Regions from separate parts of the Homo sapiens genome. Here region 1 is linked to region 2. Evidence: fine-mapped expression QTL. Tissue or cell type: blood mononuclear cells. Region 2 holds a variant in brackets; the other region holds the start of a gene. All regions are shown on one strand. Distances are between the middles of the regions.

Region 1 (6,739 bases), 92 kb before region 2:
CCTCGCCAGTGCACACACTGTCAGCCATTGGAACTGGCCTGCAAGACAGCTTGCTGTGGCGGCTTTGCAGGCACAGGGCACACAGGCATCCGTGCACGCAGCTCCTCTGTCCTCCCATGCCCTGCACCCTCCGTCACAAGGAAACCCTTGCTTCTAGGATTGCACCAAATAGGATTTGGAACCAATTGGTGCCCAAGCTCAAATCCTGTTAGTGGCTGCCTGTTTCCCTGGCATACATGCGTCCTGCCGAGATGCATTTGGCACCAGGTGGGATGTGCTCACTGGTTCCCAAAACGAGAACACATAGCAGTTTCCCTGGATGTTTGTTCAATACTATTCCCGGGACCTGCCCGTAGATTCCAATTCCTTATGGGTGTGGAAGAGCCTGGAAATCACGTGTGTGTAGGTGTGTGGCATGTGTATAGGGGTGTGTTTATGTGGTGTGACTTTGGGGTATGAGTGTGGCATGTGTACGGTGTGTGTGAGTGTGGTATGTGTATGGCGTGAGTTTGGGTTGTGCGAGCGTGGTTCTCATGTACGAGTGTGAGCATGGAGATTCTTTGGTAGGGAAGGAGTCAGGGTCTCCCTCTGTCGCCCAGGCTTGAGTGCAGTGGCACAATCTCAGCTCATTGCAACCTCTGCCTCCCGGGTTCTCTGTCTCTGGGACCACAGGCATGAACCACCAAGCCCAGCTAATTTTTTTATTTTTTGTCTAGCTTTGGTCTTGCTATGTTGCCCAGGTTGGTCTGGAACTCCTTTCCTCAAGCGATCCTCAGTCCTCAGCCTCCCAAAGTGCTGGGATTACAGGCATGAGCCACCACCCAAGAGATTCTGATGTCACAGACATCTGACTCACACACTCCCTGGACAGCTCACGTGTGCCCACCACCACAGTCAGGGATGGCTGCAGATGAACAAGGTGCTGACGTGGTTTCTGTAGCCCCCAAACAAGCAACTTGCCTTGAGATGACAACCAAAGTTTTCCTGTGTCCTCCACACTCAAGAGTGACTGTGAGGCGGAGGGGCCCAGCCCTTCTTGCAGGCGGGAATGAGTGGATGGGTGGATCAACAGAGGCTGCCACAGGAGAGAGGGAGGCCTGGCCTGGGAACAGAGCTGTGACCGTGCCCTTCCCCAGGGTAGGGGCTGAAGGACCCTCCCATCCTAGTGACAGGGCCACAGCATGTCCAAGGAGGCCCCAGAGGAGGTCCCGGGAGTCCTGGGAGAGCCTGGTTAGCCTCCCTGAAGGGAGGAAGTGGGGTTTTGTGAGAGGGATGGTGCAGCAGCCCCCACACCTGCTACTCCGTGTGGCCGGGTCCAGCCCCAGGCAAGGTTCCAGGCATGCCCCTGGGACAGACGTGGGAGGGAGACCAGCAGGCAGGTCCCCCTCAGGGAGGTATGGAGCGGGTCCCCGGGGCCAGGTGGAGCCCCTCACACCTGTGTCCTCAAGGACCCACACCAGGACAATGGCCATAGGCGGGCACCTGCAGCCGCCCTGGCCAGCAGTGAGACGGGCAGAGAGCCCAGCCAGATAGCCCGGTTCCTGCCCCCTCCCGCCTGCCCGCACAGAGAGGGCTGCATGCAGGTGAGGGTCCATCACCTGAAGAGCTTCACCAGCCCCGAGGCCATGAGCCACTGAATCTCTCAGGGGGTTTTGGCGCTTGAGGTTCCCCAGGTCATTCTGCTGCCCAGAGAGGGTTGAGGACCTCTGACCTGGAGCCCCAAAGGGGAAGGGTACCCTAAGACCAGCCAGCCATCTACTCTCAGGTGGGAAAGGGGTAGGGTTTAGATATGGCCCCCTCCCCTCCACGTCCTGAAATTACCTTGGGCTGTGCTGGCCGAGAGCCGCGGGGACCAGATTTGAGCTGGACGTGAGCTTTATTCCAGACGGAGCAGCTACTTTGTAAGCGATCTCCCTGGGATCGATATCATGGAGGGGCACAGATGGGCTTCAGCTGTGCTGGGTGGAAGAGAAAACATGCCCTGTCGGCCCCTCAGCAAGTGCTCTGCTCTCTGGACTGAGATGCAGGTCAGCAGCAAGCAGGGAGGCTTTGGGGGTGCTGGGGGCTGCTTTGAAAGGCACCCCTGAGCTAAGACTTGGCTGTTGGGAAGGAATCACCTCCCTCCCTCCAGCCGTAAAAAGAACTGGACATCAGCTTCCAAAGAAGTCATCAGCAATGCAACTGTTCACATGGAGGATACTCCCTGCTTGAGGGGTCAGACAGGCCTGCTGGGCAACCCAGGAGGCTTGGATGACCGTCTACCCCAGTGTTTTTGGGATGGAAAGTTCCACATTCTGAGAACCCTCAGTCCCTGGGCAACCTGGGGTGGTTAGTCACCACAGCTTGTGGCTTGGGCCCATGACAGCAGGTAGAAATGACGTGGACTGCCGCCAGCCGGGCACAGTGGCTCACGCCTGTAATCCCAGCACTTTGGGAGGCTGAGGCATGTGGATCACTTGAGGTCAGGAGTTCGAAACCAGCCTGGTCAACACGGTGAAACCCCATCTCTGCTAAAAAAAAAAAATATATATATATAAATTAGCCAGGCATGGTGACGTGCACCTGTGGTCCCAGCTACTCAGGAGGCTGAGGCACAAGAATCACTTGAACCCGGGAGGTGGAGGTTGCAGTGAGATTGCACCAGTGCACTCTCCAGCCTGGCAACAGAGCAAGACTCTGTCTCAAACAAACAAAACAAAACAAACAAAAAGACGTAAGATGTGGACCGCTGGAGAATGGGGGTGCTGCCTGCAGTCAAAACGGAGTGGGGGTGCCCAGCTCAGGGCCAGAATGATCCTATTCCCGGCACTTCTCAGTGAGGCTCTGTGGCTCACCTAAGAAACCAGCCTCCCTTGCAGGCAACGGCCTAGCTGGCCTGGTCTGGAGGCTCTCTTCAAATATTTACATCCACACCCAAGATACAGTCTTGAGATTTGACTCGCATGATTGCTATGGGACAAGTTTTCATCTGCAGTTTAAATCTGTTTCCCAACTTACATTAGGGGTTTGGAATTCTAGATCGTATTTGAAGTGTTGGTGCCACACACACCTTAACACCTGCACGCTGGCAACAAAACCGTCCGCTCTGCAGCACAGCTGGGGTCACCTGACCTTTCTCCTGTCCCCCCCACTTGAGCTCAGTGGCTGGGCAGCAGGGGATGCATGGCCACTGGCCGGCCAGGTGCAGCTCTCAGCTGGGGTGTTCAGAGGACGCCTGTGTCCTCCCCTCCCCCATCCCTCTGTCACCCTTGGAGGCAGAGAACTTTGCCCGTCAGTCCCATGGGGAATGTCAACAGGCAGGGGCAGCACTGCAGAGATTTCATCATGGTCTCCCAGGCCCTCAGGCTCCTCTGCCTTCTGCTTGGGCTTCAGGGCTGCCTGGCTGCAGGTGCGTCCGGGGAGGTTTTCTCCATAAACTTGGTGGAAGGGCAGTGGGCAAATCCAGGAGCCAGCCCGGGCTTCCCAAACCCCGCCCTTGCTCCGGACACCCCCATCCACCAGGAGGGTTTTCTGGCGGCTCCTGTTCAATTTCTTTCCTTCTAGAAACCAGCATCCAGGCACAGGAGGGGAGGCCCTTCTTGGTGGCCCAGGCTTTGGCGGGATTATTTTTCAAAGAACTTTAGGAGTGGGTGGTGCTTTCCTGGCCCCCATGGGCCCCTGCCTGTGAGGTCGGACAAGCGCAGGGAGTCTGGGGCCTCTCAGAGTGCAGGAAGTGCGCACAGGGTGCTCCCAGGCTGGGGAGCACAGGTAGGGGACGGTGCGTGGGGGATGGCGCCTGGGGCATGGGGGATGGGGTGTGGGAAACGGCATGTGGGGCGTAGGGGATGGGGTGTGGAGGATCGGGGGTGGGGATGGCGTGTGGGGTGTGGGGGATGGGCCGTGGGGGGGTGGGGCCTGGGAAACAGCATGTGGGGCATGGGGTGTGGGGGTGAGGTGTGGGAAAGTGTGTGGGGTGTGGGGGATGGGGCATGGAAAGGGCGTGTGGGGTGCAGGGGATGGGGCATGGAGGTGTGGGGGATGGGGTGTGTGGGGTGTCGGGGATGGGGCATGTGGGGTGTGGGGGATGGGGCATGGAAAGGGCGTGTGGGGTGCAGAGGATGGGGCATGGGGGGGTGGGGATGGCGAGTGGGGCTGGGGCCTGGGAATGGTGAGTGGGGCATGGGGATGGCGAGTAGGGGGTGTGGCGTGAGGATGGCTAGTGGGGCGTGGGGATGGCGTGTGGGGATGGCGAGTGGGGGGTGGGCTGTGAGGGACAGTGCCTGGGATGTGGGGCTGCAGCCCTAGCTCACAGCATGGCCTTATGACCCCGGCCACCTTCCTGCCCCAGGCGGGGTCGCTAAGGCCTCAGGAGGAGAAACACGGGACATGCCGTGGAAGCCGGGGCCTCACAGAGGTGAGCAGGGACTGCCACTGGTTTTGTCCTGGGGCCCAGTGGGGGCCAACATCACCTCCTTCCCCTCCCATGGCAAAGAGCCAGCCCGCGGGGTGGCTACTGCAGTGCCCCCCAAGGAGGGTGTTCCCTGCTCGAGAGGAAGTGACCGCTCCAGCTTGGCCTTCCCTGGGACTGGGGTGCAGGCGATTTTATCTTCTTTGCTCCATTCTGTTCCTTCCAGATAATCGTGTGTTCTTCATCAGGTTTTCCTCAGTTCTTGAGAGCTTTTCTGATGCAAATCTGCTTTCACCCCAGGGCGGTCACCGGCTCTGCTCACACCAGCCTCCAAGGGTGTGGGTGTCCCGGGAGTGTGGGTGTCCCGGGGGCGTGGGTGTCCCAGGAGTGTGGGTGTCCCGGGGGCGTGGGTGTCCCGGGAGTGTGGGTGTCCCGGGGGCGTGGGTGTCCCGGGAGTGTGGGTGTCCCGGAGGCGAGGGTGTCCCGGGAGTGTGGGTGTCCCGGGGGAGTGGGTGTCCCGGGAGTGTGGGTGTCCCGGAGGCGAGGGTGTCCCGGGAGTGTGGGTGTCCCGGGGGCGTGGGTGTCCCGGGAGTGTGGGTGTCCCGGGGGAGTGGGTGTCCCGGGAGTGTGGGTGTCCCGGAGGCGAGGGTGTCCCGGGAGTGTGGGTGTCCCGGGGGAGTGGGTGTCCCGGGAGTGTGGGTGTCCCGGAGGCGAGGGTGTCCCGGGAGTGTGGGTGTCCCGGGGGCGTGGGTGTCCCGGGAGCGTGGGTGTCCCGGGGGCGTGGGTGTCCCGGGAGTGTGGGTGTCCCGGGGGCGTGGGTGTCCCGGGAGTGTGGGTGTCCCGGGGGCGTGGGTGTCCCGGGAGTGTGGGTGTCCCGGGAGTGTGGGTGTTCCGGAGGCGAGGGTGTCCCGGGAGTGTGCGTGTCCCGGGGGCGTGGGTGTCCCGGGGGCGTGGGTGTCCCGGGGGCGTGGGTGTTCCGGAGGCGAGGGTATCCCAGAAGTGTGAGTGTCCCAGGGGCGTGGGTGTCCCGGGGGTGTGGGTGTCCCGGGGGCGTGGGTGTCCCGGGAGTGTGGGTGTTCCGGAGGTGAGGGTGTCCCGGGAGTGTGGGTGTTCCGGAGGCGAGGGTGTCCCGGGAGTGTGGGTGTCCCGGGGGCGTGGGTGTCCCGGGAGTGTGGGTGTTCCGGAGGTGAGGGTGTCCCGGGAGTGTGGGTGTTCCGGAGGCGAGGGTGTCCCGGGAGTGTGGGTGTCCCAGGGGCGTGGGTGTCCCGGGAGTGTGGGTGTTCCGGAGGCGAGGGTGTCCCGGGAGTGTGGGTGTTCCGGAGGCGAGGGTGTCCCGGGAGTGTGGGTGTCCCGGGGGCGTGGGTGTCCCGGGGGTTGTGGGTGTCCCGGGAGTGTGGGTGTTCCGGAGGCGAGGGTGTCCCGGGAGTGTGGGTGTTCCGGAGGCGAGGGTGTCCCGGGAGTGTGGGTGTCCCGGGGGTGTGGGTGTCCCGGGGGTGTGGGTGTCCCGGGAGTGTGGGTGTCCCGGGGGAGTGGGTGTCCCGGGAGTGTGGGTGTTCCGGAGGCGAGGGTGTCCCAGGAGCGTGGGTGTCCCGGAGGCGAGGGTGTCCCGGGAGCGTGGGTGTCCCGGGGGCGTGGGTGTCCCGGGAGTGTGGGTGTCCCGGGGGAGTGGGTGTCCCGGGAGTGTGGGTGTCCCGGAGGCGAGGGTGTCCCAGGAGTGTGGGTGTCCCGGGGGCGTGGGTGTCCCGGGAGTGTGGGTGTTCCAGAGGCGAGGGTATCCCAGAAGTGTGAGTGTCCCGGGGGTGTGGGTGTCCCGGGGGTCGTGGGTGTCCCGGGAGTGTGGGTGTTCCAGAGGCGAGGGTGTCCCGGGAGTGTGGGTGTCCCAGGGGTGTGGGTGTCCCGGGGGCGTGGGTGTCCCGGGAGTGTGGGTGTCCCGGGGGAGTGGGTGTCCCGGGAGTGTGGGTGTTCCGGAGGCGAGGGTGTCCCGGGAGTGTGGGTGTTCCGGAGGCGAGGGTGTCCCGGGAGCGTGGGTGTCCCGGGGGCGTGGGTGTCCCGGGAGCGTGGGTGTCCCAGGGGTGTGGGTGTCCCGGGGGCGTGGGTGTCCCGGGAGTGTGGGTGTCCCGGGGGAGTGGATGTCCCGGGAGTGTGGGTGTTCCGGAGGCGAGGGTGTCCCGGGAGTGTGGGTGTTCCGGAGGCGAGGGTGTCCCGGGAGTGTGGGTGTCCCGGGGGCGTGGGTGTCCCGGGAGTGTGGGTGTCCCGGGGGCGTGGGTATCCCAGAAGTGTGAGTGTCCCAGGGGCGTGGGTGTCCGGGGGGCGTGGGTGTCCCGGGGGTGTGGGTGTCCCGGGGGTCGTGGG
Region 2 (6,739 bases):
CTAACGCGCCCAGTCCAGGACAGACAGGAGACAAAAAGGAAACCTGGAGACTCCCTACACGTGACTCTGAGCCCCATCCCCCTCTTCTCTCCACCTCCCATAGCCATGCCGGCCTGACAACTCCCAGGGTTTTAACTGTTTCTAGCAGGCACAATAGGGTGAAATCCATTGCATCCTGACTGGAACTGAAGTCAACAATCATTTCTAAAACTGTAAAGGGGTCGTCCTAAAACCAAAAGGTTGACAAATGCTGCTCCATAATGGGGACTTCCGTGGGTCCCCATGGGGACGTCGCCTCCATAAAACCCAGGATCTCCCTTCACCCCAGGGAAGCCCCCTCCTACTGCCCAAATCTATATGAAGCTGAATTCTTTTTGGTGGGGGAGCAGGCCACATCTTAAAGGTAGAAGAGATGCAGAATAAGCTCATTTGTTGTTGTTCCACTCACTTCATAAAAATAACACATACCATAAATGGTTAACCACAAAATGGAACCTCTCCCTCTATATGAACAGTGTGGAAATCTGAGCAAATGTTTATATAAATCTGTTGGTGTTAACCCAGAAAGAATAGTCAATATCTTTCTTTTGCTCCCTATACCAGACACATCTCAACTCCAATTTGCTCCTCAAAACTTCTGGGAAGAATGACATGAAATTAAACAACAGATAGTCACCAAGTTTTAGTTTTAAAATAATAATGACAGCAAATTAAACTTACATTATTGGCAAACACTCGAAGGTCAAGCGCTACTGCATACATGACAGGCAGAGCCCTGCAGGGCAAAAAAGTAAACAAGTGTGAGGGGCTACGTGGGCCAAGATTCCATCCCCAGAGGTGGGAAGAACACGGACACCCAGGGCTACTATCCAGAATGGAGTCCGCACTTATCCAAAACTCTGACAGTTGTCTGCTTCCTCACCTTCTGTCCAGGCAGGCTGCAGGCCTCAGACTTCCTGATCATCCTGGGGCCCCACAATGCGGTGCTCCACACCCCTGTCCCCAACCCTGTCAGAGACCTCAGCCCTGCTTCAGTTCTGGGCTCCCAGGATATCCTCCTCCCCTCAGCTTCCCACCAGTATCCAAACAGCACCACTAAAAAAGAAGTGGTTTGATCAGATTTCCTAACAGGAACCAGAATATGTAATACACAAAATGTCACAAAACAACTTTTACAGCCAACTGGCAAAACTGGACTGTTTTCATGTGCAAGTTTTCACGTTAAAAGATAAAAGGGTGGCGGGAGGCAGAGGCTGCAGTGAGCCAAGACTGCGCCACTGCACTCCAGCCTCGGCGACTGAGCAAGACTCCTTCTCAAAAAAAAAAAAAGATAAAAGGGCGGGTTTGTTTGCAAAAGGCCTTTGGTTATTTCAGTATAAACAAATTTCAGTATTAACCTATAGTTTGTTAATAAATCATAAAATTTAGTTTGGCAAGGCATTTAAAAATACCACCATTATTATGTATTAGAACACCCCAAATGAACCGTAGTTGGTCTACCTCTTTTATCTAAGGTTTAAAACCAAAAGTTCAAAATTGACAACTGAAGGAAAAAACAGTATTTAATAAATATCTAGGGAAATGGACATCTGAAATAAAAATAATACTATATTGACATAGACACACTGCAAACAATGTGGCTGATCTACCATTTCAGTTTACTAGATTTGTGACTCCACTCATCTGTGTAGATATTACCATATGTCAACACACTGATTACCAAATATCCACATGGAAAATACAATACACATTTATTTAAAGCAAATTTGTAAAAAGATTCTGCTAAAAAAATTGCCATTTGCTAATTCAGCTGTTTCTGTTCACACTTACCAGTTTTCTTCTTTGTGGGCCTGGAATGCTCGCAAGAATGATGTACTGTATTAAGGAAGATATGGCATACAAAGTTCAAATAATGCTACGTACGATAAAAGTAAAGAATAAGAATCTAAATTTTAAGGAATGTAGATCACCCTTGAGCAGATTTATGTTGCAACAATAGTAAGTTCTTGAAGGAAAAAAGGTATAAGCTCACATTACAAATATCTGTATCTCATTAGGCTCAAGTATACTAAATACACTTATTTCATACACACTGTCTCCTAAATAAAAAAGACTTACAAGATTTTTTAAAATCAGCCCTTTCTGACATTTTATTTGGTTTCTCTGAGCCCAGATGATCATGAGTTATATTTAAGTGCTTTAGAATCTGTAGCATAAGGCTGATTTTATCAACTCTAGAATTCTTGAATTCTAAGGAGGCTGTGAGCAAATAGCCCAACTCTCTTCTGTGTATATTTAAACAAGGTGGTTAAAACGAAAAGACAAAATCTAGAGATACATACAAATCCTTAGCACACTCACTGACTCAGGCCGTAACTAAAGATACCCTTTAAATGACTGAAGTATGAATTGGTTTGATTTAAGGTCTTCAGCTGCCACAATTCAATGCCGATGTACATCTGAGGCCACTCTTGTCCATCTCTGCCTGAATTCTGGATTTCTGGTATTTCACCAACAGGACTTAACCAGTCCCTGTAAATATACTTACTACCTTACTAAAGGCAACAAAGCATTCTTCTTCTCAGCAGAGTAAGATCCTTCTTCCTAACCAGTGTTCTTCCTTACTAAGTACTGCACGAGTCTTCAGATCCATGCTAAATTTAAGTACCCAAGTGAAAGAGCTGAAACGAGCTTCTGTTCCAAAACACTGTCATTCCTTTCTAACTGCAGAAATGAGCAACTGGCCCAGTGTTTCCGGGTCTCAAGTCCCAAGTAATCCACTGCATGTGTTCTATGCGGGACAGCTGCCATGAACGACAAAGGATATTGGACTATCACGGTCTGGCACTTGTATGCCTCTATGAAGTCATGATTCCCCACTGCATAAGTGCACCTGGAGGAGAAACAGAAACATGCTGTCACACAATAAAAACCTAGCACTAGTTATGCAGCCCACACAGCTCACTTCATTGCACAGGTCCCAGTGGTCCTGGGATGAAAGGAGTGAAGGAAGAAACACACAAATGGCTGAACACAAACAGGTGAGGATAAGAGGAAGTCCCACAGTAAGCTTGGAGACTACTCTTTCAAGTCCCAGAAGGACCTAGCACCAGCAGGTTTATGAGTAACACATGTTGATAACATAGTATGACCCTTCCACTCTAGCAGGGGCTGACAATGACATTCAAACTAGATTCCCAGCTGGGTAATGTCAGTGTTAGTTCATCGCCAAATCTGGAACCTATCGCACACTGCACAGAGCTAGGAAATCACAGGTGCTTTGTACTACAAGGAACACGGTGGTGCCCCAACTCTTCCAAAGACCCTGTGGGGTTCACAGAACATTCCTGCTCACAGACCCCACACTGGTCCTGTAGCCCAGGCTGCTCTGAAAGACAGTAATCAAATCTCACATGGCTATAAGGACACAATCTTCTGCCTGAACTGATCCTTTAGAGATAAAACAGTAGATATGAAGTGTACATAAAAAGTAGCATTGTTTGCTTTGCTCAACTCTAATTTCTTTCCCAGTAACGTAAAGAGCTTCAAAAACAGACATATTTCCACGAAAAGGGTAAGTGAACAGTTCGGCTCCAAACTCTACTAAAAAGACCACT[A/G]AGCAGGCACTCTGCTAAATACTGTGTGATGTTAAAAATAGTATTATATAACTGATGTTTACAATTTCCACAGGCTTTACCAAACTGAAGTTACAAATGCATTTTCCCACTTTTTCAAAGTCAGTTATTCACTGCTTCAAGCACAAGATAATGCAAGATAAAATCCCCAGTTAATTCAGCAATTTCCAGATGTGTGTGTTTTTCTTCCTCCCCAACAGATTACCTTAAATGAGCTGCAAACATTTCATCATAAGGGGGTTCCAAGACTTGTTGACACTTCTCCTCTGGAGAGGCCATCTGATTTTAAAAAAGAAAAATAGCAAAAGTAAAATTAATAGGCACAGAAAGAATGCAACATATAGAAAGAGATTTAAACCTCTGTTTCAAGAGAATTTATGCTTTACAGTTCACAGTAACACTTTATATTTACCACTCTAAATAAAAGGTTCAGGCCGTGAGCACAGTGGCTCATGCCTGTAATCCCAGCACTTTGGGAGGGCGAGGTGGGCAGATCACTTGAGGCTAGAAGTTCAAGACCAGCCTGGCCAACATGGTGAAAGCCCGTCTCTACAAAAAAAATTACAAAAATTAGCTGGATGTGGTGGTACACGCTGGTAATCCCAGCTACTCAGGAGGCTGAGGCATGAGAATCGCTTGAACATGGGTGGGGGAGGTTGTAGTAAGCCAAGATCGTGCCACTGCACTACAGCCTGGGTGACAGAGGGAGACTCTGTCTCATAAATAAATAAATAAATAAATGGTTCATTACTTCAACAAATATTTATCAATATTTCAGGGGAAAAAGAAGCCCATGAATATAATTTGGTCTCGCCTTCTGCAAGTCAGAAAATATTCTAGGCACTTTCATATACATTTCAGTATATTAGTATTCTTGACCAGTCAGTCAAGAAATACTTGTTAAGTAACTGTCATAGGTTTAGTAAGTGAGGTCTAATGAGTTACAGATGGTGCTATGTTAGGACTCGTTCTTCTCGGCTTCCTGCTGAGACCACCAGTCTCATCTCCTGGGCTAGTCTAGCTGACATTTCTTTCTAAGTTTTCCTTTCCTCCTAACAGTCAAATTTTAGATAATCTGAACATCTCAACAGGTGATGGTTAATTTTGCCAACTTGACTAGCTGTGGAGTCCCCAGACAATGTTATTTCTGGGAGTGTCTGTGAGGGTGTTTCTGGATGAGACTGGCAGTTGCACTAGTAGACTCAGGAAAGTAGATGGCCCTCCTCAGTGTGGACGGGCAATGGCCAATCTGATGAGGGCTTGAATAGAACAAGAGGTCGAGGAAGAAAGAATTCACTCCTTGTGTGGGATTTCTTGACCTCTACAATCACAGGACCCAGTTCCTCATACTAAATCTCTATAAATATTGATATATCCCACTGGCTCTGTTTCTCTGGAGAACCCAGACTAACACACAATGGATTATAAGCACACTGCGTTTTTTTGTTTTGTTTGGTTTTGTTTACAAAAGCAATGAGCCCATGCTGATATGGTGAGAGAGAAGAATGACAGTATCAGAAAAATCACCATTCTACAGTCCCTGGTGAATGAAACCACCGAAAGAAAGTTTACTGGGGAATTTTACAATGAAGGGATCTGTCTCAGATTGCAAACAGGACAGTGTGTGTCCTCTCATGTCATACAATACAAAGCACAGGGCACCAGCCATGGGGTGTTCTGGCCAAGGCAAGCCTGAGTCTCATCGAGTCTCTAGCACTAACTCCTACTTAGAGCAATGGTTTTCAACACTGTCTACACATAGAATCACCTAGGTAACTTTATTAGAAAAACAAAAACAGGCCTGCTGCTACTTCAGAGACTGATTTACCTGGTCTGAGTTGCAAGTCTGTACACCGCCAAACATAATCACCAATAGATAAGCCCATTTTTCTTCCAAAAGAAAAATGCTGCTTCCAGTAGGAACACACTCCAATATGATAAAGGGTGTCAATGAGGAAACAGGGCTTTACCAAATGTCCACAAGATTTTCTATAGAAAATACTGCCTCAACATCATCTACGCCACAGATGACATGGAAACTCCATGTACAACCCCAGGCTGGGCCTTGGCTTGCCAGCCTTTCTGACTAACAACTTAAATGGGAGACACCTGTGGTACATGACGTCTATGGGGCTTTGGGGACGCACAGGCCTAGACAGAATCTAAGCTCCACCGCCTCTCCACCATCTAACTTCTCTAAACCTCAGAGAGCTGTCTAGGAATCAAACACAAGGGCAGGAGGTCCACATCACCACAGTGTGCGTACATAGTCAGTGCTCCACAAATGGATTGAAATTACATAAATCATAAAGAAACTTTAAAATTTTCAAATAAGAGTGACAATATTAGTTTTCTTCTTACTCAAACTCTACGCTTCTCTTAGGAAAGTGGTTACCCTGTAATTGTCTGCAGACACCTGTGTGCACAGCTCTTTCACCTACTTGAAGTCGTGGGTTTGCAACATGAGGATGTTTAAAAGACACCAACTCTGCACAAGATGCTCCATCTCTGCTGTCGATGGCTTCGTACACCTGAAACATTTGAAAGGGAAACCTAAGTAGAAAATAAAATATTCTGTTCGAATAGAACCTACAACAATACACTGAATGCCACACAGGGGAAAATTCATTTTCCCCTACTTTGAAAGAAGACAGAACAATCAAAATGTAACAGATGGTCACTACTCTCTGCAGTGGGTAAACAATAATTTCTTTTTTTTTTTTTTTTTTTTTGAGACGGAGTCTCGCTCTGTCGCCCAGGTCGGACTGCGGACTGCAGTGGCGCAATCGTAAACAATAATTTCATTTCAAAATAGGTTGTTCCTGGCTGGCTCAGGCCTGTAATCCCAGCACTTTGTGAGGCTGAGGAAGGACTGCTTGAGCCAGGAGTTCGAGACCATCCTGGACAACATAGCAAGACCCGTCTCTTTAAAACAGACCAAAAAAACAAAAACAGATGTTCCTGAAGCAAAAAAACAGGTTAAGCAAATAAAAATAAGTCAGTGGTTTATCATGTAGCTCTTCATGAAGATGAATTATTCTAATTTTACTCAATCACACTAATATATGTTTGAAAATCCAAATATACAGCTTATGAAAAAGAAA

What was found. PIP is the estimated chance that this variant, and not a neighbour inherited with it, causes the effect.
Region 1: F7 starts here. The variant in region 2 is fine-mapped to the expression of F7 in blood mononuclear cells (TOPMed, PIP 0.99).

The regions. Positions count from the first base shown.
Region 1 is chr13:113,102,518-113,109,256 of GRCh38, forward strand. F7 (coagulation factor VII) reads left to right here and starts at 3,274. Exons shown (of 8, transcript NM_019616.4): 1 at 3,274-3,388. The coding sequence starts at 3,325.
Region 2 is chr13:113,194,351-113,201,089 of GRCh38, forward strand. It overlaps PCID2 (PCI domain containing 2), which reads right to left. Exons shown (of 14, transcript NM_001127202.4): 2 at 6,077-6,166; 3 at 3,841-3,914; 4 at 2,828-2,893; 5 at 1,831-1,872; 6 at 721-775. Among named protein-coding and RNA genes, the nearest start is that of PCID2, 11 kb to the right of the region's middle. The variant A/G (reference allele first, on the strand shown) is at 3,618.